Linked DNA regions of Homo sapiens: all the other regions are reported to be linked to region 2. The links are microRNA targets in miRTarBase. Many come from high-throughput screens and were not tested one by one. Region 2 holds a microRNA gene; each other region holds the end of a gene's coding sequence.
Evidence for each region. The annotated mature microRNA hsa-miR-1206 reads UGUUCAUGUAGAUGUUUAAGC and lies in region 2 at 4,527-4,547, shown strand. An mRNA with a match to its seed (bases 2 to 7 or 8) in the 3' UTR can be bound and repressed. Matches are read on the target gene's strand: a 7mer-m8 pairs with bases 2 to 8, a 7mer-A1 pairs with bases 2 to 7 and ends in A, and an 8mer does both.

Region 1: miRTarBase lists ATXN1 as a target of hsa-miR-1206. Seed matches in the 3' UTR shown: 7mer-A1 at 2,191-2,197 and 7mer-m8 at 1,878-1,884.
Region 3: miRTarBase lists TRIM21 as a target of hsa-miR-1206. Seed matches in the 3' UTR shown: 7mer-m8 at 947-953.

Annotation. Positions count from the first base shown.
Region 1 is chr6:16,299,868-16,310,738 of GRCh38, forward strand. ATXN1 (ataxin 1) reads right to left here. Exons shown (of 8, transcript NM_001128164.2): 8 at 1-6,992. The coding sequence ends at 6,462. Among named protein-coding and RNA genes, the nearest start is that of GMPR, 67 kb to the left of the region's middle. RefSeq lists enhancers at 3,225-3,804, 5,713-5,832 and a silencer at 10,053-10,261.
Region 2 is chr8:128,004,375-128,015,245 of GRCh38, forward strand. It overlaps MIR1206 (microRNA 1206), which reads left to right and starts at 4,524; the gene lies at 4,524-4,582. PVT1 (Pvt1 oncogene) reads left to right here. Exons shown (of 9, transcript NR_190187.1): 5 at 5,216-5,344; 6 at 5,944-6,070. It also overlaps the pseudogene RNU4-25P.
Region 3 is chr11:4,375,978-4,386,159 of GRCh38, reverse strand. TRIM21 (tripartite motif containing 21) reads left to right here. Exons shown (of 7, transcript NM_003141.4): 6 at 1-3; 7 at 307-1,263. The coding sequence ends at 875. It also overlaps the pseudogene OR52B3P. Among named protein-coding and RNA genes, the nearest start is that of TRIM21, 13 kb to the left of the region's middle. RefSeq lists an enhancer at 1-495.

The DNA.
Region 1 (10,871 bases), not on the chromosome of region 2:
CACAGGTATCAAGTTCAAATGCACTAACTAAAGGATTTACCCCACTCCTGGGCCAGAAAACTGAAAGAGTAGGTGGTTCCTGTAAGAACCAGAGAAAACCTGTGCACCGAGCTTCTTGGTAACTGCTCTGAAGACAACAGCTTGAGCTAGTGTCACCTAATACTTGGTATTCTGGAGGACAGTATGTTATCTTGGTAAGGATTACTGTAAACAACACTTCCAACGAAGGCCTTCAGATTGGCCACAGAAAAGGAGACAGGCTCATTGGCCATCCAGACAGCAAACAAACTAAAGGGAAAGAAAACGTGGGTGAAGCCTCCAATGTATCTGCAGTGGAAGACTTGAGTCCTTTCAGATAAGAAAAGTTATGGAAATTCTTAGAGATTGTTGTTATTGTATAGATACTACCTATTGGCCAAATGCACTTAATTTTAATACAGTTGAACCATTTGTATGCAAGTCATGGGGACATGAAAAACTGAAGCCGGTGTTCCCTCCCGCCATTACACAGGAGAAAGTTAGCTACCAGAACAGTTGCCTTCAACGAGAAGGGAGGGGACGAGATTCTGAATTTAAGAATTGTAAGTGGGGGTGCTTAATATCCCCACAGCTGTCCAGTTTCCACTGTCCGGCTTGATTTTTGGACAGGAATACTATTCTGAGAAGATGCTCCGTATTTATTCTGGCCTCTTTATATTAAATAAAAATCAAAATAAAACTAAAATAAAATGAGGCATTTACATTGAAATCATGTTTTTACTCCCCCCATTTAAATGAGGTGTGGGGGGAAAGAAGGTGAAATAATTTTTTTTTTTGTCCCCATAATGAGTCCTGTTTGATTGGTAGCCTGGATCCCTTGTTACAAACACTTCGTGTTCAAGATTATATTCTTTGGGTTTATAGGAACAGGAAGTGCTGAAAATGTCAAACATCATCTCTGAAGAAAAAGAAGTTGCAATGGCTTAAGAGTTTAGACTAAGAAGGGAGCTCAGAGAAGTACTTTCAGCATAGGAATGAACAGTATTCTCAAATCGCAGAATACCGAGTTCCCCTCCCTCAGACGAGGGCTATATGTAACAAAAATAACAATAAGCATAGGTATAGTTTAAGAGCCTTTTACGTAGTAATTCTTCCAGGCCATAACCATACAAATCTGATCATTTAGACATGACAAATTTCTATATACAAAAAAACATGTAACTTTCAACCCTTCTCTGCTTTTTTTTTTTTACAAACAAAGTATGAAACTCATTGTTTCAACAGAGCCATATCTTTCAAACACTGAATGAATCATTTCGACATTCATTTTTCTTTTGTGCAATTTTTTAAAACATTACCTGTACTCCTCAAAGTGAGTGCTTCAAAATTTTGTTTTCTTCAGCTTCTCAAATCAGGTGTACATTTAAAAAAAAATTCCCACAAGGTATAGTGCTACAAGAAAAGATCCTATCATCAGTAAGGTAACGTATTTGAAGCGAGGTCATCTATGTAAAAGAAATCTCAGCTCCGGAGTAGAGGTGTGCAAGTTGTTTGGAGTTTCCCTATGCCAGAAACACAACACTGTCCGTGGAAAAGAGAGGAAACCAACCCAACACAATAGCAGATGCATGTGCTTTATAAAAAAGTATATTCTCTGTATATTTATTACTTGATGTGTTCTTAAATTCTCTATTTCAGAAATTCTGGGTTAAAAACAAATGTGGAAGCAAAGGCCTCCACGCCACTTAAAAAAAAAAAAAGTGTAATTCTCTCCTTTCACATCACCACCGAAGAAACCGAATTGGGCCATGGAGTCTGCTGGCCCTGTTTTCACCTGGTGCAAATTGAAGTGCAAAGGGTTTCAGAAGGCAACAGACCAGTCTGTTGAGCTGCTTGTGGTTCATGAAACAGTAGCCATGACAACCAACACAGCTCAAGAAGCCCGGCCTTCGGTACCGAGAGCTCTGCTTCCTCACCCATATCTGAAATAGCACGGTATTAGTGTCTTCAAAAGCATTGGAGATTTTTCTCTCTATGAAAGAAATAGGTTTCCTTAGTAGTCACAGATGTTAAAGGGTATTGTCAATCGTTTCCTTAAAAAACAAAACAAAACAAAATCCAGAGCTACAACAACAAAAATAAATTTTGGCAACATATTTCAGTAAAGATCAAACTGTGCAAAGAGTGGATTTTATGATTACTAGGAGCTACTGTTCATCTTGAACATGCAGCATTATATTGCAATCTATGCGGTATCTAAGGAGTAATCCACAAGATGCAGGAAATCCAAACATTCCTTGAAATTGTACAACCCTACTCCAGAGCAGTCAAAGTGCTGCTTCTGGACACGTCAGTGTACCACACACACACCTGCCCCGTCCCTGAGAAAGAGGTGTGAAAGGTTCCGCAGAGTCCCTTTAGGGGAGAAGGAGGGATGCTGCCACTTCCTGGTGGGGGGAAAAAACCCAACACACTCACCTAACAGAAAACATAGAGGCTCACAATTCCAAGTTAGAAATGGGATCAACAACAACAGAAATCAAATCATCCCAAACTAAACTGGGTGAGTTAGGGAAAACGAAAAGTTGACCAACATAGAAAATTATCCTGAAAGTCCAAATGAAAATTCAATTTGGATTTCCACTTTAAAAGATCTGAGGTAAGTGGCATCCATCTCTGTATCCCTCCCTCCCCCCTCTGCCCCAGTGTGGCCCAGACAAACTGAAATAATTCTTAAGTTAAACATTCTAAGGAACAGTCATTTTATATATTTAGAAATCCCTAGAAAGAGAGGTTCTTGTTTGTTGGTTTCTTATTAATAGTATTATTTTTTTCTTTTCGCCCTGACTAATTTCTTGGTGATTGTGTTCCATTGTAAACGCAAAAGGCCTGCTGTTACTAGTTTAAAAATGGAAAACAGGAAAGAAAGAACAAAAGACGGCTGTCGGTAAATATTGCAAAGTGGACATAGTACAGAGGCACATGGCTGATCCTTGTAAGCTGAACGGCACCGAAGAATTTCTACCCCTGTCATCGTTAATGTTTGCTACACAGAAGCGGTGACAGAGGCTGCTCTGGGAGCCTCGGGGCCCGCCAACGTCTGCAAACAGGAGGCTCCTGCCCTCTGTGCGTTCTTCCTATTTGAAGAGAAAGCTGCCACAAGGGAGTGGTGACCGTGGGTGGCAGGTGGTCCCCTCCACAGCCACTGGCCAACACGCTCAGAACGCACACACACAACAGGCCACACTTCCCGTCCAGGCTCAGAGGCAGGGCTCCAAGTCTCAAGGACACAGACCCCGAGGAGGGGCCTGCCCACTTGCAGAAAAGACCGTGGAAAATGGGTTGACTCCAGGCTACATGGCTCCAGAGTGCGTCTTAGAAATGAATCTGCCTCCTTCCTCTCCACACTCCACATTCACTATTCCGTGTGGTGACAGGGGACACTGCGGTTCCTCCCCCGGGTCTCCTTGGCTGGCTCTTTCTGCAACGTGGCGGCAGACGCACGGGGCTCCTGAAGGCTCCCCGCCCCAGCACTCAGCATCCGCAGCAGGGGAAAGGTGGGAGGCTCTCTCCCTCCTGGCTCCTTCCCTCCAGCCCTGCTCTGGCCAGAATGGGGAAGATCAACCAAACAAGGAAAAAGCCAAAAGGGAATGAGCTTTAACTATATAGCACACTGGTCAGACTCTATTGGCACAGAAAGTATTGCACATGCTAAAAAAGCAAGAGAATGAAATGGGACAAGTGTTTAGAAAGAACCAATTATTTTATAATTCCTATACCTGAAATAGAACCACAAAAATTATGATGATGTTCCTATTGCTCCAAACCATGTGTGTTTTCCCATCTTAGTGTTGGTTTAGTGGATCCAGTCAATTCAATACTCGAAGTAAGCCAAAAGGTGGTGTGTGTTTTTCTGAGTCCACATGAGTTGTAAATAGTGATATTAATGAGAACAAAGTCTATGTGGCAGCCCGTATTCCTCTTACCATCAAAGGCTAAAAAACAAAAAGAAAAACAAAACCTAATAATTGCAAGTGCCCTGAGCAGAATATATGGAAGATTAAGCAAGTTCTCTGAACAGAAACGTTTAAAAAATACAGCACTAAATAAGCAGTATGACTGCAAGAATGAGCCCACCCAGCTCTCTGCAAGCATGCTGAGAGGGTAATGAAATTCGAGGAAAGTCAAGGAACTATTCTAGCTATTCTAAACCTATTCAAATGTTTTTGGTACACCCCAGAAAACGGTTTATAAAAATCATTAGTCCTGGTGAACCCTAAATGTAAATGAATACTAGACAGCCAAAATGTGGGTTGATACCAGATTTTTTTTTTAATTTGTGAAACGAAGAAAGTACTATTTTCAATGGGGTAAAAGAAAAGTCAGGTATTTGTTCAGTTTAGTTGCAGCCATCCAAGTAAGAATATTTAAAAATTTCTCCCTACTTATAAAACTTTTTTTTAAAGCACTTTAAAGATGCATTCAAAACCCACAAATGATATTTCGGATCTCTGGGAATGAAAGGTTTAAAAACTATGAAATACCCTTTCTGGGTTTGTACCAAACATTAAATCTCGATTTGATTTTGAATAGAAAAAAAAAAGCCATTCTGAAAATAACATTAATAACAACAATAATAAAGTAATTGTTTAAAAAAAATCTTGCTCACATATATAAATGTCTTTATGGAAAACTCTCTCAATGAATCTGAAGAAAATTCTCAGAGTTTCTAAGAGCCCGCTAAGACCTGGCTTTTTGTGACAGATGTGGTAAAAAGACCAAAATGAATTTTCAAAGGAACATAACCTTATAAAATGGCCTAGAGTTTAGGCAGGTTAGAAAGAAATTTTGCTACATTTATTTATGCTCGTTCAGTCCCCCAAACCTTTCCCACAATGTTATTGGATAAAAACTGCAGGAATATCACACAAGTTATAAACTCAATATGTGCAAATCGCAAGGTTCTTTAAAAGTTCATCTTAAAAAGAAAAACACTGGACAAAAATGAGTATTCTCTTCTCCATCCCTTTTCTCTCAGTTTCTCTGCCAACTCTGCATATGCCTTGAACTGATTCTCAGACATCAAAGTGAAAAGTGCCTCCCGTCAGGTAGTACTTGGTGGTCATTTATTGTCACATACTAGTTCATAATTCACATTCATCCCTTTAAACCACATTGAAACTTTCAATATCTTGCTCTTCAGCAATTCTGCAGAGCTGAAATGTAGTTACAGTGTTGAAAAAAAGAAAGCAACTTAGTTTTTTTTGTTTTTGTTTTTTCCCCAAAGAGTTTAAAGTGAGATACAGTACTTGTTGAATGAGAGACCAAGATGCTTGGTAATAAAGTGTGAACAGTATTTTTAAATGCTTAAAGATAGTAATATATGCTCATCTTCAAAATCTAATTCCTCATGTCACACTGGAATCTGAAAAAAAAAAAAAGTGGCACCCGAGTTGTCCATAGTCATGAACTATAAACAGTACTAGAGTTCAAAGACAAAAAGATTTCGCAAACTCAACGTGAAGAGCTTCTGTTGCTCTCACTGAAGGGCAGTTTGCATCTACCTCTTGGGAGTGAAGTCAATGCAATAACCTGATTGGTTTTCCTAACACTGCACAGAAACCAGCGTGGGTGTTCGCTCTCTCCCTCTCCCCCACCCCCAACCCCCCTTACCCCATGTGGGGCCATGACAGCAGGGGCTTCCCTGTCCACCACAACACCCTGGTGACATCGCTGCACTAGTAAAAAGCAGAAATGAAATCCCGCATGTGGCAGTTGCTCTTTAAAAAAAATATATATCAGTGCAGTCAGGCCCCATAGGGGGAAATATATATCTATACAATTAAAAGTTGCTTTTATTGTAAAATATGTTGGAGAGAAAAATGTTCTTTTAAATGGTTAACTTTCCAAATCTGCCATCTGACGCGTCTCCGCGATGCCCTGAAGCTGGGTTCCTGATGTTGATTTTGCACGTGGGAACCCCAGGAGGACACTGCTCTGAACCCCCCCGGCCCATGCCGATAGCAAGAGAGTGAGGCAGAGGGAGGCAGAGAAAAAGAGACCCTCACTCGCCGCCACAGCGCCTGTGCACCCCCACATGCGTGCAACCCTGCACCCCTGCAGGACCCTTCCCACGGGACTTTTCTCCTGACACTAGCGGGAGTCAGCGCCCCCGGCTGCTTCTGTGCCGCTAGAGAAGGCAGGCACTGTGAAGCCCCGTTCCTTTCTTCCCCGGGGATGCCTGGAGCCCTGACCGCTCCTGCTGTGCCCTTCCTCCCGCCCGCTCACTGACAGACACTCGTGGAAAAAGCATATGCACCAGTCTCCTGCGACACACCTGCTGTAACTCTAATGACAAGGTTAGAACAGAAACCTAAAATTAAGAAGATAACATGTAAATACTGTGTTATTTTAGCCTACAGTACAGTAATCTGGATACAAATGATAAGGGAGAGCCACGTTTCCTTTCCCCCACGCTGCCTCTACTTGCCTACATTAGACCGGCCTTCAATGCAAATCTTAACCTCCTGAGGAATTAGAGAAGGCTTAGGAAGAGTCAAAGGTGGTTCGTCTTCTGACTTCTCCAGTTTGCGGCTCTCTGGCGCCGACCACCTCCTCTTCCTCGTTGCCGCGGGCTTGCTGGGTTCTATTTTGGTGAGGAAGGGCGCTGCAGGCAATCCCATTTTCTCTGGAAACTTCAGTTCGCCATTCTCAGAGAGCATCTGGGCACTCCCCTGGTTGATTCCGTTTTCCTGCTCGGCATACCTGTGTCTGCTGCCCGCCAGGCCGTCGGCCTTTGAGTGCTTCAGCAGGACGCTGGCGGGATCCACGGGCTGGCCCTTTTTAACAGAGCCGTTCTTCAGGTTCTTGAGGGTAAGCGAGATGCAGACATCCCCAACTGAGAGTTTGGAACACGGCAAATCAAAGAGCTGGCTGGTTCTCTCCGGACAGCAGGATGACCAGCCCTGTCCAAACACAAAAAAAGGATACTCTACCAAAACTTCAACGCTGACCTGTGGAAACAGGGAGAGACAGAGAGAGGAAGAAGGAAGGGAACAAATGAAAACATTTTATTCTTGTTTGATTTTATGCACACACACAGGTATGAACTCACACAGACACACACAGGCTGAATGGGGGAAAATGACTCAGTTTGCAAACCTCCCTCTCCCCCAGCCACACACTATAAATGAGGCTCTTCTCTTTGGGTTGTACCTCTACTTGCCATAGGCAGAAGCCAGTGAAAAGGTCATCAATATTCAAAATATTCCATCAAGTGTTAGCTCTATAGCTGGTCTCTGTTAGAACCAGTCAATCGAACCCCAGTAATGACAGAGCACCCACTTAGCTTTCAGCACCAAGCTAGGCTCTGCAGGTGGCTCACAAGCCCAGCGCGGTCTTAGATTTTATGAGCTCAATGGACAACTGCTATTATCATACAGGACAGGACTAAACATGGATCAGAGTGAGACTGTGAGTTCCAAGAAGCAGGCACAGTGTGTTTATCACTGAGTCCCCAGCCCCTAAAAGGATGCTTGGTGGCTGGGCACAGTGGCTCATGCCTGTAATCCCAGCACTTTGGGACACCAAGGTGGGTGGATCATTTGAGGTCAGGAGTTCAAGACCAGCCTGGCCAACATGGGGAAACCCCGTCTCCACTAAAAATAAAAAAAAAAAATTAGCCATGCGTGGTGGCGGGCACCTGTAATCCCAGCTACTTGGGAGGCTGAAACACTAGAATCACTTGAACCCAGGAGGCAGATGTTGCAGCGAGCCGAGATCGTGCCACTGGGCGATCCAGCCTGGGCCACAGAGTGAGACTCCGTCTCAAAAAAAAAAAAAAAAAGTCAATTTCCAATGTCCTTTCTAGATGTAGTAGACTAGGTAATTTGGACCAACCCTCCTTCTGAGGACAACTAAAAACTCTGAACAAAAATATAAGCAAACAAATAAATTTAAAAACTCTGGACAAAATGTTTAAACTTTTTTTCTTATAGTACTGGACAGCAAATAAGATAGTAAAAAGGCCAGGCGCGGTGGCTCATGCCTGTAATCCCAGCACTTTGGGAGGCCAAGGCGCGTGGATCACCTGAGGTCAGGAGTTTGAGACCAGCCTGGCTACCATGGCAAAACCCCATCTCTACTAAAAATACAAAACTTAGCCAGGTGTGGTGGTGGGCCCCTATAATCCCAGCTACTCAGGAGGCTGAGGCAGGAGAATCGTTTGAGTCCGGGGGACGAAGGTTGCAGTGAGCCAAGATCGTGCCACTTTACTCTGAGACCAGCCTGGCCAGCATGGTGAAACCCTGTCCCTACTAAAAATACAAAAATTAGCCAGGTGTGGTGGCAGGCGCCTATAATCCCAGCTACTCAGGAGGCTGAGGCAAGAGAATCGCTTGAACCCGGGAGGCGGAGGCTGCAGTGAACCGAGATCATGCCACTTCACTCCAGCCTGGGCGACAGAGTGAAACTCCGTCACACACACACACACACACACACACACACACACACACACACACACACTTCCTGGGTTGGATCAGGAAAAGATGATGGCCCAGAGAGGTGAAGCTGGTGTTGGGGGCCTGTTTTCTCCTGAAGGCACTTGAACATTCCAAAGTGGAGCAGTTGGGAAACCAAGTGGGCTTTTGATAGTGTTAAGAGCATAGGGAACAGGTAATGGAGTTCAGGATACACCAAGGGAGGGTGTTCTCTGGTGAGCCCCATTCTTTTGAGTTGTGACCCCAAAGCACTGTCCCTTAGAGGAGACAGTGAACCACAAGCCAACAGGCCTTTCAAGGTCTGAAGCTCAGATTGACTCATCTGAGTCCCTAAAACTGGATTAAGGTCTTGAATTACTTTCACAATTTTGCAAATAAAAGCATTCAATTTAAAAAAGGGGGGTGGTGGTCATGAGGAGACCAGATAGCTTGTATAAGCACTAGCAAAATATCAGATCTTAAAAAAGGATGCACCAGGGCTTCTCATATAGAGTCATACATATAGACTTTACAAAGACTATGCTTACAATAATTAAGAAGATTAAAGACAGCTTGAGAATTTTGATAGGAAACTAGAATCTGTTTTTAAAAGATCCATGAAGCCAGGCATGGTGGCTCATGCCTGTAATCTCAGTACTTTGGGAGGCTGAGACAGGGAGGATCACTTGAGGCCAGGAGTTTCAGACCAGTCTGGGCAACAAAATGAGACCCCGTTTCTACAGAAATTTAAAAAAAAATAGCCTAGTGTGGTGATGCGTGCCTGTAGTCCCAACTACTCAGGAGGCTGAGGCAGGAGGATCTTGAGCCCAGGAGTTAGAGGTTGCAGTGAGCTATGATCACAAGACTGCACTCCAGCCTGGACAACAGAGTGAGACTCTGTCTCTAAAAAAAAAAAAAATAAATAATAATAATAATAATAATTAATTAATTAAAAAAGGTCTATGAGAATTGTAGAATTAAAATATACACCACTGAAATCAAGAATGCAATGAGCTTTCCAGTTGAATAGACATGGATTAAGAAAGAATTCAGGAACTGGATTCTCTAATTAGAGCTTTAGAAGAGACTCCACAGAGTGAACATAGAGACAAAAAGATGGTCAATATGGAGGAGAGGGTAAGAGACACATAGGATACATTGAGAGGGGCTAACAGACACATAATTTGAATCCTAGGAGGAGGAAGAGAGGGAGATAATAGGGCAGAAGTTAATACTTGAGGAGGTAATGGCTAAGAATTTTCCCAAACTGAAGAAGGATAATAAGACAGTTTCAAGAAGGCCTAGCCCCAAACAGGAAAAATAAACAAAAAGAAATCCTCACTGAGGCAGATGAGAATTAAACTGCTATAAATCAAAGACATCTTGTAAACTAAACAGGAAAAAATATCGTTAAAAGCCTCTAGAACAGGCTGGGTGTGGTGGCTCCTGCCTGTAATCCCAGCACTTTGGGAGGCCGAGGTGGGTGGATTACCTGAGGTCAGGAGTTTGAGACCAGTCTGGCCAACATGGTGAAACCCCATCTCTACTAAAAATGCAAAAATTAGCTGGGCATGGTGGCAGGAACCTGTAATCCCAGCTACTCGGGGGGCTGAGGCAGGAGAATCACTTGAACCCGGGAGGCGGAGGTTGCAGTGAGCCAAGATCGTTGCAGTGAGCCAAGATCGTTGCAGTGAGCCAAGATCATTCCATCACACTCTAGACTGGGCGACAATAGAGAAACTCCATTAAAAAAAAAAAGCCTCTAGAACAAAATACATATTATCTCCAAATAAGCAACAATGGAACTCACAGTTTACATCTCAACAAAAATAATGGAAGCCAGTAGACAATGGAGACAATGGAATATCTTTACAGTGCTAAAGAAAAAGAATTGTCAATGGCGAATTCTATATGGAGCAAAAAGATCCTTCCAGAATGAAGGCAAAATAGAGACATGTTCAGACAAACAGTAATTAAAAGAATTCACCATCAACAGATCTGCATTATAGAAAATACTAAAAGGTATTCTTTAGGTAGAGAAAAAACAAATCTAGATTGAAGTTTGTACAGGGAGGAATGAAGAGGAATGAAAATGGTAGATACATGGTGAATCTGAATGAATATTGGCTATATGTAACAATATTTAAAATATTGTTGGATTCTTTTTTTCTTTTTGTGAGAGGGAGTCTTGCTCTGTCGCCCAGGCTGGAGTGCAGTGGCGCGATCTCGGCTCACTGCAATCTCCGCCTCCCGGGTTCAAGCGAGTCTCCTGCCTCAGACTCCCAAGTAGCTGGGACTACAGGTATGCACCACCACCACCACGCCCAGCTACTTTTTGTATTTTTAGTAGAGTGGGGGCTTCACCATGTTGGCCAGGATGGTCTCGATATCCTGACCTCATGATCCACCCGCCTC
Region 2 (10,871 bases):
CAGGTGCCAGCACTTCTTCACCTTTCTCTACATTTGCTCATCCTGGAGGTGGGGTTGAGCTGGGTCTGCCTTGTCCCCTCACTTCCCTCTCTGCCGAGAGAGTCCTGAGCCCACCCATTACTGGTAGCAAAGCCCGGGGCACAATCTCCGTTTTCCTATTTGTAAAATGGAGCTAACAGTAGTACCCATCTCATCAGATGGCTGTAGAGATGAAATGAGATAATGTATTTGTGGCGTTAGGACAACAGTGGTCCTGCTACAGGGAGAAGCCTGGGCCAGGAGATAGACTAGTCTCCAGATACCACTGAAGTAGCCTTTCGAATACCAATTACCTGCCTCACTTTGCAGCTGTGCAGCCCTGAACAAGTTACTTTCCCTCTCTGATTTTCCAGTCTTTGTTACCTGTAAATGTAACAATGCCTTTCTCTATGTTGTTGCGAAGTCCACATAAAGTGACATGAAATTGATTATAAAATACAACACAGGCTGGGCACAGTGGCTCACGCCTGTAATCCCAGCACTTTGGGAGGTGGAGGAGGGCAGATCACTTGAGGTTGGGAGTTCAAGACCAACCTGACTAACATGGAGAAACCCCGTCTCTACTAAAAATACAAAATTAGCCAGGCATGGTGGCACATGACTGTAATCCCAGCTACTCGGGAGGCTGAGGCAGGAGAATCGCTTGAACCTGGGAGGTGGAGGTTGCAGTGAGCGGAGATCACACCATTGCACTCCAGCCTGGGCAACAAGAACAAAACTCCATCTCAAAAAAAAAAAAAGTTACAACACAAAGGTTGGCAACTATCACTAATAAGTTTGACTGGGAAACCTCACTACTACATTTGTATTGTCTTAGACCAAGCTTGTGAGATTTTTTTGTTATTTGTTTTTGAAGCTCATCAGCTATCGTTAGTGTTAGTGTATTTTATGTGTGGCCCAAGACAATTCTTCTTCTTCCAATGTGGCCCAGGGAAGCCAAAAGATTGGACACCCCTGTCTTAGACTTTTAAGGAGCTGTGACTGAAGGATGGAGACTGGGCCAGGTGGGGCTTGGTGCAAGTTTAAGCTCTTAGGTCATTTCTAAATAGCAAACCTCTCAAATAGCATCCAACAGATATGCCCTAGTCTTGTCGTCTTTCCCCTGCTATCTTTTGTACATGTACCTTCTGCTGACTGCAGTGTGTCCTGGAGCCCTGACTTAGTTAAACCTCAGAACATCCCTCTGCATCCGGATGCATCCAGTACTCTCGGTTTGTCTGGCTCCTGCTGTACTCCCTGCATCTGCCCAGCTGCTGACACAGCCACATATGGCTTCCTTTGCCCCAGCTTTCAGCATTCTGGTGGCTTGTAGTGCTGAGTGCTAGCAAAGAAAGTGGGTACTCTCACACACTGCTGCTGAAAGGTGGAGGGTGATGAACAGGACCAACAGCTCTAAAAGACGTTTCAAGGCCAGGTGTGGTGGCTCACACCCGCAATGCCAGCACTTTGGGAGGCCAAGGCAGGCAGATTACTTGAGGTCAGGAGTTCGAGGCCAAGCAGCCAACAAGGTGAAACCCCATCTCTACCAAAAATACAAAAATTAGCCAGATGTGGTAGTGCGCGCCTGTAGTCCCAGCTACTCAGGGGGCTGAATAAGGAGAATCACTTGAACCTGGGAGGCAGAGGTTGCAGTGAGCTGAGATTGCGCCACTGCACTCCAGCCTCAGTGACAGAGTGAGACCTTGTCTCAAATAATAATAATAATAATAATAATAATAATAATAATAATAATAATAAAAAGATAAGGGAAATTTGGGCAGGACTTCTCCAAGTTTAGAGTATATGCACCCTTTGGCCCAGCAATCCCACTTCTCGGAGTCTGTACCCTAGAAATAGTGAGGGAAGTTTCAAAAGATATTTATTCAACAGCATTAGTAATGTATCAGAACCTTGAAGACAGCCTAGCTGGTCAACAGTACAATGCTCAGTTGCCACTATAAAGAATGAGATGCTGTGTCCTTCTCAGTGCCTCAGATCAGGAGGCACCTGGTGTTGGCTTGTCACATTACTAATGATGTTTACTTCCATCACTTGATTAAGGTGATGTCTGCCAGATTTCTCTACTGTAAAGTTTCTATTTTTTTTTCTGTGTAATGAATAAGTATCTTGTCAGGAGATGCTTTGGACCTATGTAAGTATCTTGTTTCTCATCACACTTTCACCAAACTAATTTTAGCATTCGTGGATAATTCTTGTCTGAAACAGTTATTACTACAGTGTGTGCCAAACAGTGATTTTCTACTTCCATCATTACTCCTACATTTGTCAATTAAAATGTTACTATAAGGAAGATATTTTCTTTTATATTGAAAAAATGCAATTTTTTAAAAATCAGTCTGGACTCTTGGATTCTCATTATATTGGTTATAACCCATGACTATAATACATTTTGTGCTCAGATTTTTCTAGATTTTACATTGGGATGCCCTTCAAGTTGGGTTCTATGTATTTTTGCCATTTTACTGTTGTTTTTTGAGCACTGCCTTACCTTTTGACCCCACAAGATATTCTAGGCTCAGTGTACACTTTGCCTGGTCCAGCCCTGGAATCAGCCATTGCTGCTGTGCTATCCTTGACAGAACTATAACCTGAATTTAACAAGGAGGAAATATCAGGCAAACACAAATGGAGTGACATTCTAGTTAACAACTGATCAGCACTCTTTAAAAATGAAAGACAAAGAATGACTGAGGAATGAGTTCAGATTAAAAGAGACGAAGGGACACGCTCCAACTGTAACTGCAACGCATGACTGCGGGCTGCGTTCTGCATTGGAAAAAAGTGTTACTGATGAAATTTGAATATCGTCTCTAGATTGAGCAACTAAGCAATAATATTGTATTAAATTGCTAGATTGGGCAATAGTATTGTACTAAAGTTAATTTCCTGACACAGTTAAATAATTGTACTGTGTATATAAGATGTCAAAATTGAGAAGTTGCAAGGCTAAATGGAATTTCTCAGTTTTTTAAACTCTTACTTTGTACATCTGAAATTATTTTAAAATAAAAACTAAAAAAAAAAAACCTAAATACAAACCATGAGATAGATTTATATGTACTAATATGGGATGGTGTCCACAATCAATTGGAAAAGATAAGTTGTAGTACCATTTGTATAGAATTGGCCCATTTTTGTAGGAGCAAGACAGAACAATATAGTGCACATACATATTTATCTACACATGGGAGAAATTCTGTGAAGGGTATGTACTTCCTGTTAACAGACATTTCTGGGAAATGTGTTTGGAAGGTATGAGACACCTTTTACTTTTTGATGTCTCCTGATAATGGGAAAACAGTAAGAATGTGGGTTGTATGCATGAGTGTGATTCTACACGTGTAGGTTTAGGTTTGATGTACTCCCATCCAGCTTATTCTCTTTTGCATTTTCCAGCACAGGCAGTGCTGTGCAATGTCTTGCCCAGTGGACACCCACCTAATTTTCACTCCACAAACCACTGTCCTACATCTGATCCTTAACAAAGTATGTTAGTTGTAGACACAAAGGTGGCCTACATTTCATACTTGTTGACAGTAATGCTAGTTGACTCATCTTACCTTTGTCTGAGGAGGCTGGAAATTGTTTGTCCTCAGAAACTTTAGGGAGAAATTTATTACTAAGATTGTATCATTTTGGTCTCCCCAGAGAAATGAAAAATTAGAAATTGGCCATGTGACAATCGTTGCATTTACCTCTTTAAGGAGCAGTGATTCTTTAAGTGGTGCTTGATTTATCTAAACCCGATTAATTAGTGAACGGTCATCTGTTTCTCCCAGGAATTTTTAATGATCATTAGGCTTTTGTAGTTACTGTGAAATTTTGTTTACGTGGATTTATTTTTGTGCAGGATTGTATACAGGGCAGATGCTCCTTAATTTAAGAAGGGAGATGTGAGAACAAAAGTGTCTTCTCTTGAGTGAGGGCCTGTTATGTGCCCTGACTTGTTACAAATATCGACTAATGTAACCTTCTCTACCATGTACCTTTCTTCCAATTTATCAATGAGGAAACTGATGCAAAAATGTATGTTCCCACAGGCTCTGGTGTGTTCACTGAGTTAGCTCCAGAAAGAACTGTCCCCTTCTCATGCCTGTTCCCTACTTCTTTTGCAGCTAATTCTCCGAAATGGTTTCTGTCTTCAGCTTTCTGGGCTGCCCCATCACCTGTGTTGCTTCTAAATGTTAGTTTCATTGCTGCCTTCTGGGTTCCTCTGCTTCTCTCTGACATGATGTCTCTACGGATGCATCTCTCAGTAATGATTATAATGGTGGTGATGATAATAAAAAGAGAATACACAAGTGTTTTTATCAATCCCTGACCATGCTGGGCACAATGCTAAGCATGTGCAGGCATGATGTCTTTATTCTGCCCACTCAGCTGATGAGATTGAAGGGGCTCCCTGCAGGTTGGGGCCTGAAAAACACAGCCAGGTCCATCTAGGAACTAGAAGCTATGGTCAGGCTTACATGCTTTTTTCATATCAGTGTTCATGTAGATGTTTAAGCTCTTGCAGTAGGTTTTTGCAAGCTAGTGAACGCTGCCAAATTATGCTCGCCACACAATTGCAGCCACCTATTCCCAGGCAGTATAAATATATGGCTGAACTAACATTAATACCTATCACTGTTTTATCAAGTGACATAATCAAGATAATTATGAAGTATCCAAATATTAATTTTCATAGATTAAAAGCAGATAAAGTATTAGAAATCTGCTTATATCATTAGCAGAAACATTTTTGGGGGCCACAGGGTAAGGAAAAGAGGGGAAAATATTGTCCTTCAACAAAAGTAATCATATTCTAGTAAGTATAATAAAAGAAATGACAAGCTTTTCAGAATTTCCACGACTAAAAATTGTTTTAGCTGCAGCTAAAAAAGCATCACATAACAAAATATCTCTTGTTTAAAATATTTGCTACAAAAAAGTCCTATTCTATATGTCCTGCATAAGAACAAGTATCTTTATATAAGAAATGTGTTTAATAGCCCTCTTTCATTCTTTTTCTGAAGCCCTCCCTGTTAAATTGCACCCAAAGGGGAAACATTAATTGAACTGTAAAGCTTTTTTTTTTTCTGTCTAAAGACATTAAAGACATATAGGTGGTATTAAATGAACCTTTAACTAGAGCTCTGTGAGTTTTCAAAATAGATTTTATTTTTCTTTACCATAGGCCAACAGAGATTTTGAGAAACACATTGAAGGATCTGTTAACACTTGATATACCCAATAAAAGCAGTGGTTGTGCCAGTGCTGATCTGTCTTGATGTGAATGTGAACAATGGGAACCTGAGCTGAGCAGGTAAATAATCATGTAGTACAGTCACCGTCTTCAGTGTTTGAGATGACTAGCAGGGTAAACCACGCTGTGTCTAAGATGCAGTGTTAATTCTGTTTGAAGTAAAAATATGCAAGTGTGGTACTGGATATTTTGGCACGCAATCTTGCGAAATTTCTCATTGATGAGATTCTGACATAGGAACTACATTTGAGTAAGAATCATAGCTCAATACAGCATGATTTCAGGAAAGTCGACTAAGATAAAAGTGTTTCTGAGGCTGAACAGCAAGAATCTTTTGCTAAGAGTTAGAATAGATTGACAAGAACCTAAAATCAGAAGTTGCAATTCTGCTGAGATACTGCTTTTCAGTTCTCCGGTGGAAGCTTCATTGGACATATTGTACATCAAGCCTCTATGTGACTGATTCCTGCCTCTTTATGTCTTGTTTTAGATTCTCCATGGCAGTAGCTTTAGGCAACCCAGTTTTACTGAATGCAGCAATGGTTTCAGTGACCATTAGAGTCCAATTTTAGGATGATACTTCTCCAAATTGTTAAAACTCCCTGGTGCTTTTCTCTTATAAACTGCAAAATGTCTTCATATTTCATCCCGCTTTTCAGTTAATGCTAGGGTGACAGAAACTGGACCTCTCCCAAGACATGTGACAGAGTAATACAGCAGCCAACTTCTTCGCCAAATTAAAGTTTTACAAGATTTAACCTGTCATCAAGACCTGGGATTTTGGTGGTGAGTCATCTTCAAAAGCCAAGTTCGGTCCCTGGTTTGCCTTCTTTTCCGCACAAGAACAAGGGTTTTGATGGCTCTGGTCTCCAGGACCATCTGTGGCTTTCTATTAGCAATAATCGCACCTCGGTGAAACCTCATTGGCTACGATACTGCCACTGCGCAAAGCTCATGGCTTTCTTTAATAGCAAATGGCCTCTGACTTTTAAGAAGCCATGTGGCTACCCCTCAGCAGACTTAGGAGAGGTCTTGGCTATTATTTGTTGTTTTATAAGGTGTCATCATTGAGCATCTACTCTGGATGAGGCTCTGTGCTGGGCTTGAGGGGTACAGGGAAGTTTCACATGTCCCGTCTTGTTGAATCACACACACTTGATCTCACTACAACAGCAGAAAACAAGTTAAAGTTCCCCAGGGGTTGACACATTTGCCTGCCGTGTTTATTGCTGCTGTGATTTCTGCAGCATGGTCCAAAGAAGGCAATCAGTCAACAGTGAATGGGTTGAGATTTTGTGATTTTGGTTTAGGAGTCTTAATCTCTAGAATAAAATCTAATGAAAGGGTGGGGCTATGTTTTTCTCTTGCCTTGACTTCTTTGACTCTATTTGTAAATTCCAAATTTACCCAGGCCTCTGGCTCATTCTGTCTTAAGGTGCGGGGACCTCTAAAATGTAGATGGCAACAATCTTTAGACTATATGTGTCTTGATGGTAGGGCAATCAAATTGATTTCCTCAGCATATACGAGTCATGTTTTGTAAGCATGGTGGGTACTTAGTCAATGTCTCAATCAGATTTGCTTCTGTTTAGCAAGATAATCTTTTGTGGGGGAGTGTTATGGACTGAACTGTTTTCCTTCTTCCAAACGTATATGATGAAACCTACCCCCATGTACTCAGTATTAAGAAGTGGACCTTTGGGAGATAATTCAGGTTAAATGAGATTATGAGGGTGGGGCTCTCGTGATGAAATTAGTGCCCTCAAAATAAGAGACCTCAGAGAGCTTACTGTCTCTCTTCTCTCTCTGCTACGTGAGGACACAATGAGAAGGGAGCCATCCACAATGCAAGGAGAGGGCCCTCATCAGAACAGACCATACTAGCACCTTGATCTTGCACTTGTAGTCTTCAGAACTGTAAGAAAATGAATTTTCTATTATTTAAGCCACCCAGTCTGGTGCAGTCTATTATTGCCTTCCAAATGGAGAAATACAAGGAAACTAGGGCCGTCTTAGCTTCACAGAGAGAAGATGTGGAGAGGAGTTAGGAGGTAGAGACTGGACCTTGATGGTGGTGATATTCAATTAGTGAAAGGCTGAGAAGAGGTCAAATATACTTCTTGTGGCCCCAAAGATCAGAACCAAAATGGAAAGGTAGAAACAGTAGGCAAACAGAAAGCAACTTAATAAAAGGAAAAGGAACCTGAGAGAATGCTCTGTCTCTGACAGTGGTTGGGATCTCATCACTGGAGATATCCACACAGGGACTGTATTACTACTGAGAGGGGGTGGGGCTGAAAGGATCCAAGCATTGCACTGTGATGCGACCCCATAAGGTCACTTAGTCTTTGGGACTTGTGAGCTCACAGTGAATCATTACAAACAGAAACGATTCCCTCTTATTTGTGGAGCACATTAAAATTTCCAAAGCATTTTTGTGAGTACATTAGCTCCCATGATTTATATCAAAACATTAGAGTTGACATTCAATACACATTTGCTGAATGAGGGGGATGCATGAAGGAGCTATTGTGGTACCTTGGTTGGCAGAAGAGGAATACATGGGCAGAGTCATTTCTAGACTTGCTAGGAAAGGCCAAGCCAGGCTTGGACCTGGGTCTCTACTGTACTCTTTACTCTACTCAGTCTTTTCCAAGGTGGAAATAATATTTTCTCTGAGGCTGATGTTTTTCTGTTTGTTTTGCATTTTGGTAAATTCATCAACATCAATATCCCCTTTAATGCTCACAAATGCCCTTAGAACCAGCTTTTATTGTTCTCATTTTGCAAATGAGAAAATGGAGGCTTCAAGAGTTGAGTGAGTTTAGCAAGGTTTTCAACTCTTCTTGGGCAGAGCATTAGGGTTGCAGACAGTTGGGCACCCTCTTCAAATGAATGTGAGCCAACGTTGGCCCTGTTGGGTGTGCAAGGAGTTCTTGCAGAGTTGATGGAGACCCTGTTTCGAGTCACATGAATAATTAATCTAGGGAAACAGTAGTCAAACAGTCAACTCATTCTTTCTTGCACTCTTGCTGATCCTCAGCAATTTCTCGGCTGCTCCTCCTGCCAGAGTCCTGTTTTGTACCTTGTAAACAAGTCACTCTAGGAGTTCCTAGTCCTGGCTGTATACCATAGTCACCTAGGGGCTTGCAAAATCTACTAATATCCACCCCACTCCCACCGTACTCCAGAGATTAAGATTTAATTGATCTAGAGAGGGATCTGGGCTTTGGTGTTTTAAAAAATCTCTTTAGATGGTTGAGAATCACCAAATTTTTGTTGGTGTGGGGCAGGTTTGCACATTCAGGTTCATGGGTTATTGGAATGAGGCATGAAGGGGCCTGCTATGTTCCCAGGGCCTGCTAGCTCTGTGCCGATTGCTTTTGGTTTTGTAGAAATGATTTCATTCCTTCTTCCCTGAAGCCATCCTGATTTGAGGTCATAGTCTATGGGGGTGCCATGTGGATTTATACTGCAACTCTTGTTTTTACTAGCTCTGTGACCTCAGAAAGGCCACCCCCCCTTCCCTGTGCCTCTGTTTCCATCTCCTCTGTAACATGGGGATAATAATACTAGTTTCCTTATAAGTCTGTTGTGAGCATTAACTCTTGGGATTATGCCTGTTGAATAGTTAGGGTTCCACAAATAAGTCTTGCTTAATGGTGTTGTTATCATTGTAATAGCTGCATGTGTGTGAGTGTATAAATGTATGTAAGATATTTTTCCTGTTTTTTTTTCCCCCTGGCAGAGTTAGCCACTTCTTCCTATGTGTAAGCATATCATCACTTTCTATTTCTATTATGGAATTGTAATGTGTTTTTGTGTCCCTAACCTGATATATTCATTCCACAAATGTTTATTGAACACTTGCTGAATGCTGAGGAATGGACAAGAGAGACACAATCTCTGCCTCTTGAGCCATTTGAACTTTGAAGAGGACAGATGATGACAAGAGGAAGTGGAAATAGGCTAGGATGCTACGGAGACTAGAACAAATGGTCCTTATTCGTACCTTGCTGTGGGGGAGACTCTCCTGACAGAGTTAGTTGTGTCACCTGCATTCTTTCTTTCCCTTCCACATATAGTGTCCTGGGACTTACTGTGATTACTTATCTCTCTATCCCTCAACAGTAAGTCCTAATCATTGGGGCTAGGAAATGTGCCTTGTCAAATGAATTAATGAATGAATCACGCTGGACCAAAATGAACAAAAAGTTATTTTTTTGACTCAATTTAGCTTAAACATCACATCCTGAGATGCTGTGTTAAATCCTGGAGTCACAAAAGACCTTTACAGAAATCTTTACAGATTTCTGGGAACTATAGACACGTATATGAGGATAGGTTTGGACCATTGTAGCTGCTGTAATAGCTGTTGTTCTGGTGAGCAGTGGGGACCCAAGTGTTAGTAGGCCCTGCAATAAACATGTATGGGCCTGAGATAAATGGGTCAGTGTCTCTCACGAAGCTCTGTTTCGTCAAGGTGAGGGAATGTGTCTTTTTTGCATTTATTCCCTCCCAGGGTTTAGGTCACTGCCTGACACATGGCAGGTGCACAGTGGATACACAGAGAGTGGCCAGACAGACGACATAGCTTTTCTCTGTGGATTTATCCTCATCTCTACAAGGGGGGTTAGCCAGTATTTTGAGGGTCTCCCTCAATGCTCACATTCTAGAATCCTGTGATGGGTGCTGAAACAACGCTCCCTCATTGGAGCTGCTTGAGAAGGTCATTCATTATTTTGCGATATCTTCAGACTCTCATCATTGCTAGAAGCTGACTAATTATGAGAAGAGAAGTGAAGGCCTTGAAATGCCTCTCTCTGCACATCTGGCCTCACTGTCAAATAAAGTACTTATTTCTGATAAGCTCTTTGGCTTCTGTGAAGCCGCCTGGCCGTGTCTGGCCGTGGGCGGTGCTGATAATGAACCGAACAGAGAACACAGACTTGGCGGGGAAGGTGGGGACCCAGTGGGTAGAAAGAATGGGCTTTTTAGACCATTTCAAAGTAACAAGAAAGCTTTGAGAGTGCTTAGTGATGTCTGCTACCACATTCATTTCCTCTGTTTCCATTGAAATTGAAGTTCTAGATGGACTGAACCTGACTAAGAAAAGGGAATGTGGACAGGAAAGCTAATGACAAATGCAACTGGCTTATTTCTGGAGTGCTTTGTACTCTCAGAGTCTTGTGCCCTGAACTTTCTTCATCTGGACTCTAGGGGCACTTAAGCAATTAGCATGCCACAAGCTGGGTGCTGTGGAAAGATCATAGACTTTAGAAACTGTCCAAGAAACTAGTGGGACTCCACACCTTGTGAGTTGTGTATCCTTGTCAAGTTTAATTTACCATGTTGAGCCTCAGTTTCCTCACCTAAGAGAAAGAAAAGAGAAATAGATTTATTTATTTATTTATTTATTTATTTATTTATTTATTATTTATTTATTTTTGAGACAGGGTTTCACTCTGTTGCCCAGGCTGGAGTACAGTGGTGCGATCTCAGCTAACTGCAACCTCTGGTATCTGGGTTCAAGCGATTCTCGTGCCTCAGCCTCCTGAGTAACTGGGATTGCAGGCGTGCACCAACA
Region 3 (10,182 bases), not on the chromosome of region 2:
CAGGTGAGGCAAGTTCTAGTTTTGCGGGGGATAATGGGGTGCAGAGTAGATCCCAGGGTCAGGGAGCCTGGATGGCAACTTGGAGGAGAGATGGCAGGTCAGAGCAGGGGGAACAGAGATGGAGGTAAGGAAGATGGTTTCTTCAGAGGTCAGGACCAAGGCCAGAACTGGCTGATGGTCATTTCCTCACACAGGGAGGTTCACCCCTCATGCTTACCCTGGAGTTTACACAAAATCCCCCCACCACAGGCACAGACTTAGTGAACTCCCCCCATGCAAGGCCTGACTGTGGTCCTCTCTCTGCAGTCCACATCACTCTGGATCCAGACACAGCCAATCCGTGGCTGATACTTTCAGAAGATCGGAGACAAGTGAGGCTTGGAGACACCCAGCAGAGCATACCTGGAAATGAAGAGAGATTTGATAGTTATCCTATGGTCCTGGGTGCCCAGCACTTTCACTCTGGAAAACATTACTGGGAGGTAGATGTGACAGGAAAGGAGGCCTGGGACCTGGGTGTCTGCAGAGACTCTGTGCGCAGGAAGGGGCACTTTTTGCTTAGTTCCAAGAGTGGCTTCTGGACAATTTGGTTGTGGAACAAACAAAAATATGAGGCTGGCACCTACCCCCAGACTCCCCTCCACCTTCAGGTGCCTCCATGCCAAGTTGGGATTTTCCTGGACTATGAGGCTGGCATGGTCTCCTTCTACAACATCACTGACCATGGCTCCCTCATCTACTCCTTCTCTGAATGTGCCTTTACAGGACCTCTGCGGCCCTTCTTCAGTCCTGGTTTCAATGATGGAGGAAAAAACACAGCCCCTCTAACCCTCTGTCCACTGAATATTGGATCACAAGGATCCACTGACTATTGATGGCTTTCTCTGGACACTGCCACTCTCCCCATTGGCACCGCTTCTCAGCCACAAACCCTGCCTCTTTTCCCCATGAACTCTGAACCACCTTTGTCTCTGCAGAGGCATCCGGATCCCAGCAAGCGAGCTTTAGCAGGGAAGTCACTTCACCATCAACATTCCTGCCCCAGATGGCTTTGTGATTCCCTCCAGTGAAGCAGCCTCCTTATATTTGGCCCAAACTCATCTTGATCAACCAAAAACATGTTTCTGCCTTCTTTATGGGACTTAAGTTTTTTTTTTCTCCTCTCCATCTCTAGGATGTCGTCTTTGGTGAGATCTCTATTATATCTTGTATGGTTTGCAAAAGGGCTTCCTAAAAATAAAAAATAAAATTTAAAAAACTGTGCCTCCGTCTATCCCATTCAGTCCTTGTTCCTTAATCCTGAAATACTTGAGAACTCTGAATATGATTAATAGTGATGTGTCTTTAACACTGCACGTGCTTTTCATGCCTAGACTGTCCCATTTGAAATGTTTGATCTTGGACTGAAGACCCAGGTCAAGTCAAGTCTTCTGTACTTCCCCATCATTGCCTTCCCCATCATAGCCGCTGTGGTGATAGAAGGCCATTTGGGCTCTGATCGCTGTCCGAGGGGATATTACCTCCTTACCATGAGGGAACACCTGCTTTTGAAATACAAAGTTCTCCTGGGGCTGGAGTAGCTCTGTGACCTCTGCATCTCTGACCCTCACAGACCTGAAGCACCTTCTGTCCATGTTCTCAGTAAGTGACGAGTGACAACATCAAAGTTCTTGGAGCTCTCTGGGGCTTCCCTATGCTTTCAGTGTTCTAGACAACTGGCCAATTCCTGTGCCCCTTGGAATATCCAGTTTTAATGTTATTTCTCTCTGGAATGCACCTTTCTTGGGCAAAGTTTTCGGACTTTTCCAGAAGAGTAAATGTTACATCCGCTAAGGGATAAAGAAAAAGGGGGTGTGTGCTGTGGGTGTGACCACATCCCCAATCATGAGGAAGGGATTTGGAGCCTGAAGAAATGTGTGTCTGTGTCAGCATGTGCTCACATTCGGCAGGTGAGGCCATGAGTATTAGGAAGAAAGGGACCATCTTGTCTTCCAGAAGCTTCCACTGCAGACGATGAGGTATCCTTTCAGGCAAGGTGAGGAGAGACTTTGTGTGGAGGTAAGAAGAGAACACAGCAGCAAAGAGTAAGTGAAGCATGGCTTCATCTTCTTCCTGTCTCTATGACCAGGCTACCTCCCCTAAAACTCCTGCCCCGGGCCCCACGCCTCCTACTTGAATGGTTTGGACGAGGAAAGAAGAGGTTGAAAGGATATGGAAAGAAAGCCAAACAAAGGAGCTGTCTAAGTTCCTGGACACAGCCACTAACAAGCCCTCTCTAACATGTGCAGCTCAGGCCTGTGCCCCAGGGCTGGGGCTTTGGGATGGGAAGACAGACAGACAGAAGAGGAGCAGGAGCTGTAGCAGGGTCAAAGATGCGTCTCTGGGAAGGGAAGGGCCCAGCATCTGACAGCTTCTGCAGACAGATCCAGGAGCGTGGGGGTGGTCTCAGGTGTCGAAGTAAAGGATGAGACATAGACTCCCTCTAGAGTGTCCCCATAAGTGGGTCGTGGCAACTTTCTTCTCCTACCTTCTTTCAAACTCAGAGCATCTCTCATTGTTGCCACTTCCCCCTCGGCTCTCTCTGACAGAAAAAGCCATTCTCCCTGTTCCCATCCCTTTCCTTCCAGATTTAGACTTCTCAGCCCTGGATGATTCTGCCTCATTCCACCCACCCTAACCCCTCTTCCTTTGAACTACTCCCCAACACACACACAGACACGTGCATGCGCACATGACACATCCCTGGCTCTCAACCCACCTTGTTCTTGGCCTCAACTTTGACCTAGATCTCAGAGGGCTACCAGTAGATCCTGTCAAGGTCCCACCATGGGGGTAAAGGTCAAAGCATAGAAGCCTGTGGAGCTGGTCTCCCTAAGTCTCTTGCAGGAATTGTCCAAGCCTGGTGAGGGACCGCAGGTGGGGAGGTTAAGGTGTGGAAGGAGCTAGAGGGAGTTAGTGCCTGCCCAGGGGAGTGTGGGTCACTACTCTTTCATTATCACATTAGCAAATATTTAGTCAGATGATAATACTCAATACTGGCAAGATGGACACATTTATCCTTGCTGGTTGTGATGTAAATGGATGCAAACATTTCTGGAATCATTTTGTCAATATGTAATAAAGGCCTCAGAGATTTCCATATTATTTAATTTAATAATCCCACCTCTGGGAATCTATCCTAAGGAAATAACTTGACATTGGGAAATAGCCCTATGCATAAAGATATTCTTCAATGAATAACAGTGAAAATTGGTTATAGCATTAGTGATCAACAATTAGCACTACTGTCCATCTAGTCAATGGAAGACTACACAGCCATTTCAAAATAAAATTATTAATAACATGGGGGAGATGCCCATGACATATTCAGTGAAGACAGTTACACCAAATTGTATAATTTCAGAAGGTGGGTCATAACTATGTTAAAACAAAATGCAAATAAATTTTTGAAATCGCCTTTATCCTAGCAAACTAATGCAGGAAGAGAAAACCAAATACCACATGTTCTCTCTTATAAGTGGGAGCCAAACACAGGGTACTCATGGACATAAAGATGGCAACAAAGTGGGGTCTACTAGACGAGGGAGGAAGGGAGGAGAGCAAAAGTTGAAAAACTAACTGCTGGGTACTATGCTCAGTACCAGGGTGACAGGATCATTCATACCCAAACCTCAGTATCATGCAGTATACCCAGGTAACAAACTTGCACATATATCCCTGAATCTAAAAAATTGAAGAAAACTCACCTTTGTAAAGATTATGACAGAGAAATCTAATGTGGCTGACTCCGACTTGCTTCTAGCCTCACAGGATGGCTGTCTTCATTCATTCCTGGGCATAGGTCAAGCTAAACATGGGAGGAATTTAGTTTCTAGTTTAACTTGGAAGCAAGGATGATAATAGTCCTTTCTTAAAACTAACCCCCTCCTTGCTCAGGGTCCAAAACCTAAAGAAAGGCCACAAGATTAGGATTATGGGAGGGGCCTGAATTCTGCTAAAATGTGAGTGTCATTTCTATAATTCCTCACTGCTTAGGAGTCTGTGCTGTGCTGACAGCCACCACACCCAACCTTAGGTACCCAAGAGATAATGACATGGGAGATGTCAGCTCCATATGCGCTTGTGGTAGATTGTGGAAGGCCCTACACGCCAGTCTTCTCCCCTACATTGGGAAGTTTTCCTGTTGGCCCAACAGTCTATTCTTACTTCCTTTCCCCAGGAGCCCCATCTTGTATCTTCCTGTCTAAGTTCCTAACTAAACTAACACTTCCCAAGCAGAGATGAACTAAAGTCTTACAGCTCAGATTGCAACTATATTTTAATCCAAAGTCTATGGAAGATCTCACTGGTTACTTGACCCTTATATCTTCTTCTTCTCATCCATGTGTTTTCACTCAACATCCCCCATACTTGCCACATGATATTCATCAACATTCTCCTTGTATCCCTAAAGGTGAAGGAAAGGGCATCCCCTTATTCTTTCCAAAGAGGACATAATGATATGGAACTAGAAGCAGGGGTGAGGGAGTTTAGAGATGTTTGCAACTACCTTAATGTTGTGGGATTTATATTTTAATATTTAAATAGATTATATTAATTACCATAGTATTCAATTATTTGTTGGAGATTCATCTGAATTTAGCAGATGCTTAGTAAAAATGTATGGAGTAAACTTTGGAGACACCTTGCCTGAGATGGTGTGCACAAGAAAGTTAAAAAGTTCTTCAAGAATTTTTGCTCAAAATGAGTTGAGACTTAAATCTAAGACCTGAAACCATACAACTCCTAGAAGAGAACATGGGGTTAGGAATATCAATCTAAATAGGTGTGGTGGTCTTTTGATATGCCACCTTGGTGGCTAGCTATAAGCCCCTAGTTATTCAAACTAACCTAGATGTTGCTGTGAAGGTATTTTGTAGATATGATTGAAGTGCATAATTATTTGACTTTAAGTAAAGGAGATTATCCTATGTAATCTGGGTGGGCCTAATTCAATCAGGCCTTAAAAGCAGAACTGAAGCTTCCCTGAAGATTATATTCCACCTATGAATAACAGCTTTAACTCATGCCTGAGAGTTCCAGCCTACCTTCCATCTGCCTGCCCTATGGATATACGACTTGCTTTCCCAGCCCCCACAGTTGTGCAAGTGAATTCCTTGCAATAAATCTCTTAATATATATCTACTACTCTTTCTGCTTCTCCAGTTGAACCCTGATTGATATGAAAGCCAGGACTGAGGTAACAGCATCACCTGGTGACAGCATACTTTAAGTTTTTAAGGTTGGAACAATAAAGCTCTAAACTTGAATCACAGTAGACTGTGAGAGAGCCCTAGCATTCCAGGAACTCTGATTCCTTATCTAAAATAGAATCTCAGGTTGCCCTCAGCACCATTTCCACTAAATATTTCATGAAAAATTTAGTTACTGTACAAAGAAGTCAGTGACTTTGAAAAGACTTTATTGATCAAAGAGTTGCTTCTAAGGATGAGTAATGGTCTATCTTTTAACATAGGACAGAAAAGAATCCTATGAAGAAAAGATAAAAAGAACAGAAAAGACCCAGGTCTTAAATCCTCAGATGACAACTAAATCAAGATAAATGACAAAGTCGACCAGTTCCTTGGGTAATAAACTGGAGCAGGAATATGGAAGAGAATTCATGCTTATGCAAATGAGATGTACTGGGGAATGGTGGGCTTGTATTTGCTAGGTTCATGGAGAAATATGAAGAAAAAGAAGGGTAGATTATAAAATCAGCTTTTCTGCTTCTCTATGTTTCTGCCTTCGAGCTAACCAGTATAAATGATGGTTTGCTCCCTTTCATTGATATACTGATGAGAGGAGACTGTCAGAATGATATCAACCTAAATAATCTCAGTTCTCAAAATCTGAATACCTTGGGATATCAGGTTACCTTTATACTTGGAGATATACATTATATAGATGATATACTTCCCTTGGTCTCCACCAAAATAAACCAAGTAGTAGAGATTTCATAGAATCTCAACTTTTACCCCCACCAATAGTCACTAACAAGTAATCCAGGTATACCTTTGCATGTCACATAAAAGTTCTCCTGAGAAATGAGGAAAGACTCTATCAGCACTAATTCTAATTCTCATTAATATTGCCCTTTAAAATTCAAACAAACTAGTTGAATTTTCTAATCTCTTTTGATTCTACAACTTCCTTTTGAATTAGGAAAAACAGATATTATACTACAATTTTAAAGATAAAGTCAGTAAAGCAGAAAAGAAAGAAAATTTAAAATGTATCCACTGCTTATTTTGTCTCATGTATATTCAAGGTCCTGTTCATACTTTATTTTATTTATTTTTATCATAGGCCTATGATAAATGTACAATCAAGACAATCAAGAAATGCAATGATTATGATATCCTCCCATATCTAATTTAAAATAATATATTTCAAATGATATCAAATATATCATTTGATTACATTACATTACATTAAGATAGAGTAATCTTAATGTAATCTTAATTACATGAAGATAGAGTCTATCTAAGTGTTTTAACTGTAATGCCCTAGTAAGTAAAGTTTTCTTATGGTTTAATTTGGTTATTTCTGTTTTGATAGTCCTTTTTCTGGCACCCTAAGGATGTGCCAGGAAGAGTCTCTAAGAGAATAAGTAACTTACCCAAGGTCAAACACACTGTTATAAAGGAAGCCAGGATTCAAACCTAATCCTGATCCAAAGCTTATGTTCTTCCCTAAACACTATACTTTTCAAGGTCACATGACAATCTGATTTTCAAAGTCATGATCAGTCACTTTATCCATAGTCAGTGGAATCTTAATTCGTAGGTCTCTGCAAAGTAGGCAAAAAAAAAAAAAAAAAAAAAAAAAAAAAAAAAAAAAAGCAAAGCCCTATAGTGATAAACATACTATCAGATTAGTCAAATCTAGCATCATTTCCTCTGTGAGGACAAAAGACTGAGCACACACTCTTGAATCTGCCTGGTGTTGATCCCATAAATGATGGGGTTCAGCATGGGAGGAGCCAACACGCAGACATTAGCCAGCAGAATGTGTGTATGGAGAGGAACATGGTGCCCAAACCGCTGGGTAATTATGGTAAAAATACCAGGCAAGTAGAACATGGAAATGACTCTGAGGTGGGAGCCACATGTGCCCAGAGCCTTTTGCCGAGCTCCTTGGGGAGGGGAGGTGGAAGCCTGTATACAGGATGAAGCTATAGGACACTAAGATAAGCAAGGCATCTAGCACTACAGTATAGAGAAGGACAGACAAGCCATACCAAACATTGACATGAATATCAGCACAAGCAAACTTGGCAACAGCCATGTGCTCACAGTAGGTATGTGGCAGCAGATTGCTATGGCAGAAAGGCAGCCGCTTTACCAGAAACACATCTGGCATGATCACACAGAAGCTTCTCAGGACCACAGCCAAGCCAATCTTTGTGATTTTTGCACGACTGAGCACTGTGGTATAGTGCAGTGGATCACAGATGGCCACATAGCGGTCAAGTGCCATCGCCAACAGAATTCCTGATTCCTCGATGAAGGTAGCATGGATAAAGAAGATTTGGGTAACACAGCCACCAAGGGATATTGCTCCAGCATAGAACCAAAATATGGCTAGGGCCTTGGGCACAGTGGTAGTAGACAGGATAAGGTCAGCCACAGCCAGCATGCAGAGGAAAAGGTACATGGGTTCGTGGAGGCTGCATTCAGTGATGATGATGAAGATGATGAGGCTGTTCCCAAGGAAAGCAACAAGGTAGGAAATAAAGAAGGGGAGAGACATCCATGTGTGCTGGTCTTCTAAGCCAGGAATGCTCAGCAGAATGAAGAGTGAGTGGCTGCTACCAGTGGAGTTGTGGGTTGTCATGCCCAGGGAAGGTCACCTGAGCATTGGTATGTAGGATTTGGCAGTTACCTCTTCTCTCTTCCCAAGAAGCTGAATGGGGTTGGAGTAGGGAAGGAGGGAACAGATTATTTTTCACTGGATGGAGCAGTGAAAAGGGTCCTGTTGAAGAAGTCAGGGGATGTGGTCTAAAATTCTTTGCCATTCTATTCATGAACTATGTGATCTCAATAAAATTACTTCCCTGTTCTGGATGTCTCTTTTATCACCTTAAAACTAAAGTTAGGGACAGAATGGATTACATTATTCGTAAAAGAGAAATTTTTGGCTCTAGAATTCCATAGATCTCAGTCTCAGGTTGTTGTAAATGCTTACAAGCTGCGAATAACAAGCACTTCAATTTCCACTTTGAACACCAGAATGTGATGTGAATCTCAAAAGGAAAGTGGCAACTGAGTTACCTATCAATTTAATACGCCTTACTGAGTACGTGCCAGGCATGGTTTCTTGAAGACCTACTTGGGACAGTCAGACAATCAAGCAACATGGCTACCTATCTAATATGCACACTGTAGAAGAAAAGCTAAGCACAGGGAGCTGTGGAAAGAGGAAGAACTCCCTAGGCATTCGGAAAAGACTTGCTAGAGTGCTGCCTTGAAGAATAAATAAGAGTTCGCCAAGTAAAGAAACATGATGAGGGAAGAACTTGAATGAAGTCATAGAGATCTGAAAAGACATAGGGTTTGGAGGAAAATTATAATGATGCAGGGTTAGTGCAAAGAGGACATGAGAGGGATAATAAAATTGTAGAAAATAATACAAGGGACTGAAGTAGGGGCCAAATCATTGAGAGATTTGAGTCCTACTCTAAGGGCTTTAGATTGATGTTGAAGTAGTGAGAGTCACTGAAGGATCTGTAGTGAGAGAATGGCATGGTAAATTTACATTTTAGGTAGCTTTCTCTCCGGCAGTATTGTGTAAGATGGATGGGGAACGGAGGAGACTGGAGAATGAGACAGGGATCATTTAGGAGGGGTACTGTGCTGCAGGCTTTATGTGCATTATTACAGTCACCGCAGCCTGAGATAACTGTTGTCATTTCCCCCGTTTTGCTGATAGGGGAGCACACAGAGCTCTGAGAATTTAAGTAGCACCCCTACCCAAGGTCGCTGGGCTAGCAAATGATGGAGCTGGAATTTGCCTTTCCAGACCAGGTTTTAATCACTTCATGTCTGCCCTATGCCACTCGATCCCATTCATCGGGTGATGGTGATTTCCTGACTGCTGGTTCAAGGAGAAAAACAAAGTCGGCAGTTATAAATTCCCTTAAATTCCACCGCCTTTACTCTGCCACCTACAAATTTATTTGTACTCAAGTTGTCCTTTTCCTCTTCCTCCTGCTGGAGGCTAAGCCCTCCATCTGTGCACTGACGCCCAACCCTTCTTTTTTTCTGAGTACCTCTCCCCATTAGTTGGTCTCTCTCCAGTAATTTTAACCTCTCCCTCTCTCTTTGTTCCTCGTTCTTACTGAGCAAATATGTTCGGGTGTCCTGTCTCCCCTTCACCTCAGTGTCACAAAAGGAAGGATGTGCTCTCTCTTCAGTAATCCTCTCACCTCCCTCTTGATCTTCACCCACTGCCATGGTACTGATAGCCCCAACATGCCACAAAAGTTTCTTTCTCTAAATAGTCATGATCTGTCACATGACTATTGCCCAATCTAATGTCACTTTTCATTTCTTATCATTCATAATCTTCAATTTCTGTTACTAATACTTCCTAGCTTTATAATAGCAACCATTAAATACCTACTGCATATCATATATAATTATTATTTCTAATCTTCACATCAAATCTGTGAAATTGAAATTATCACTAGTTTATTCACAAAGAAACTGACAGATAATTTGCCCAAAGTCAAACAACTTGTTAGTAGCTAGCAAAGCTCCCATCAGTATTTAAAACTTCCATTTTGTTATATTGATTACCTAAACCGCCTTTCTTGGGCTTCCACCCCACTCTGCTCCAATTCTCCTATTTATGCCACAACTTCTAAAACATGTAAGACAGTGAACATAGGAAAAATAAGAGCTTTCAAATCAGACCTACCTGGGTCAAATTCCAGCTCTGCCAGCTGAAAATACACACACACACACACACACACACACTCTTCCATTCAGGTGCATATTTCACACATGTTCATTCATACACTCACCATCCCACATATTCACTCTCACAAATTTTAATGAAGATTTACATACGGACATTTTTACAGTTTACACAAACAGCCCTTCACTCTGACACTTCACATACGCATGCTTTTAACAT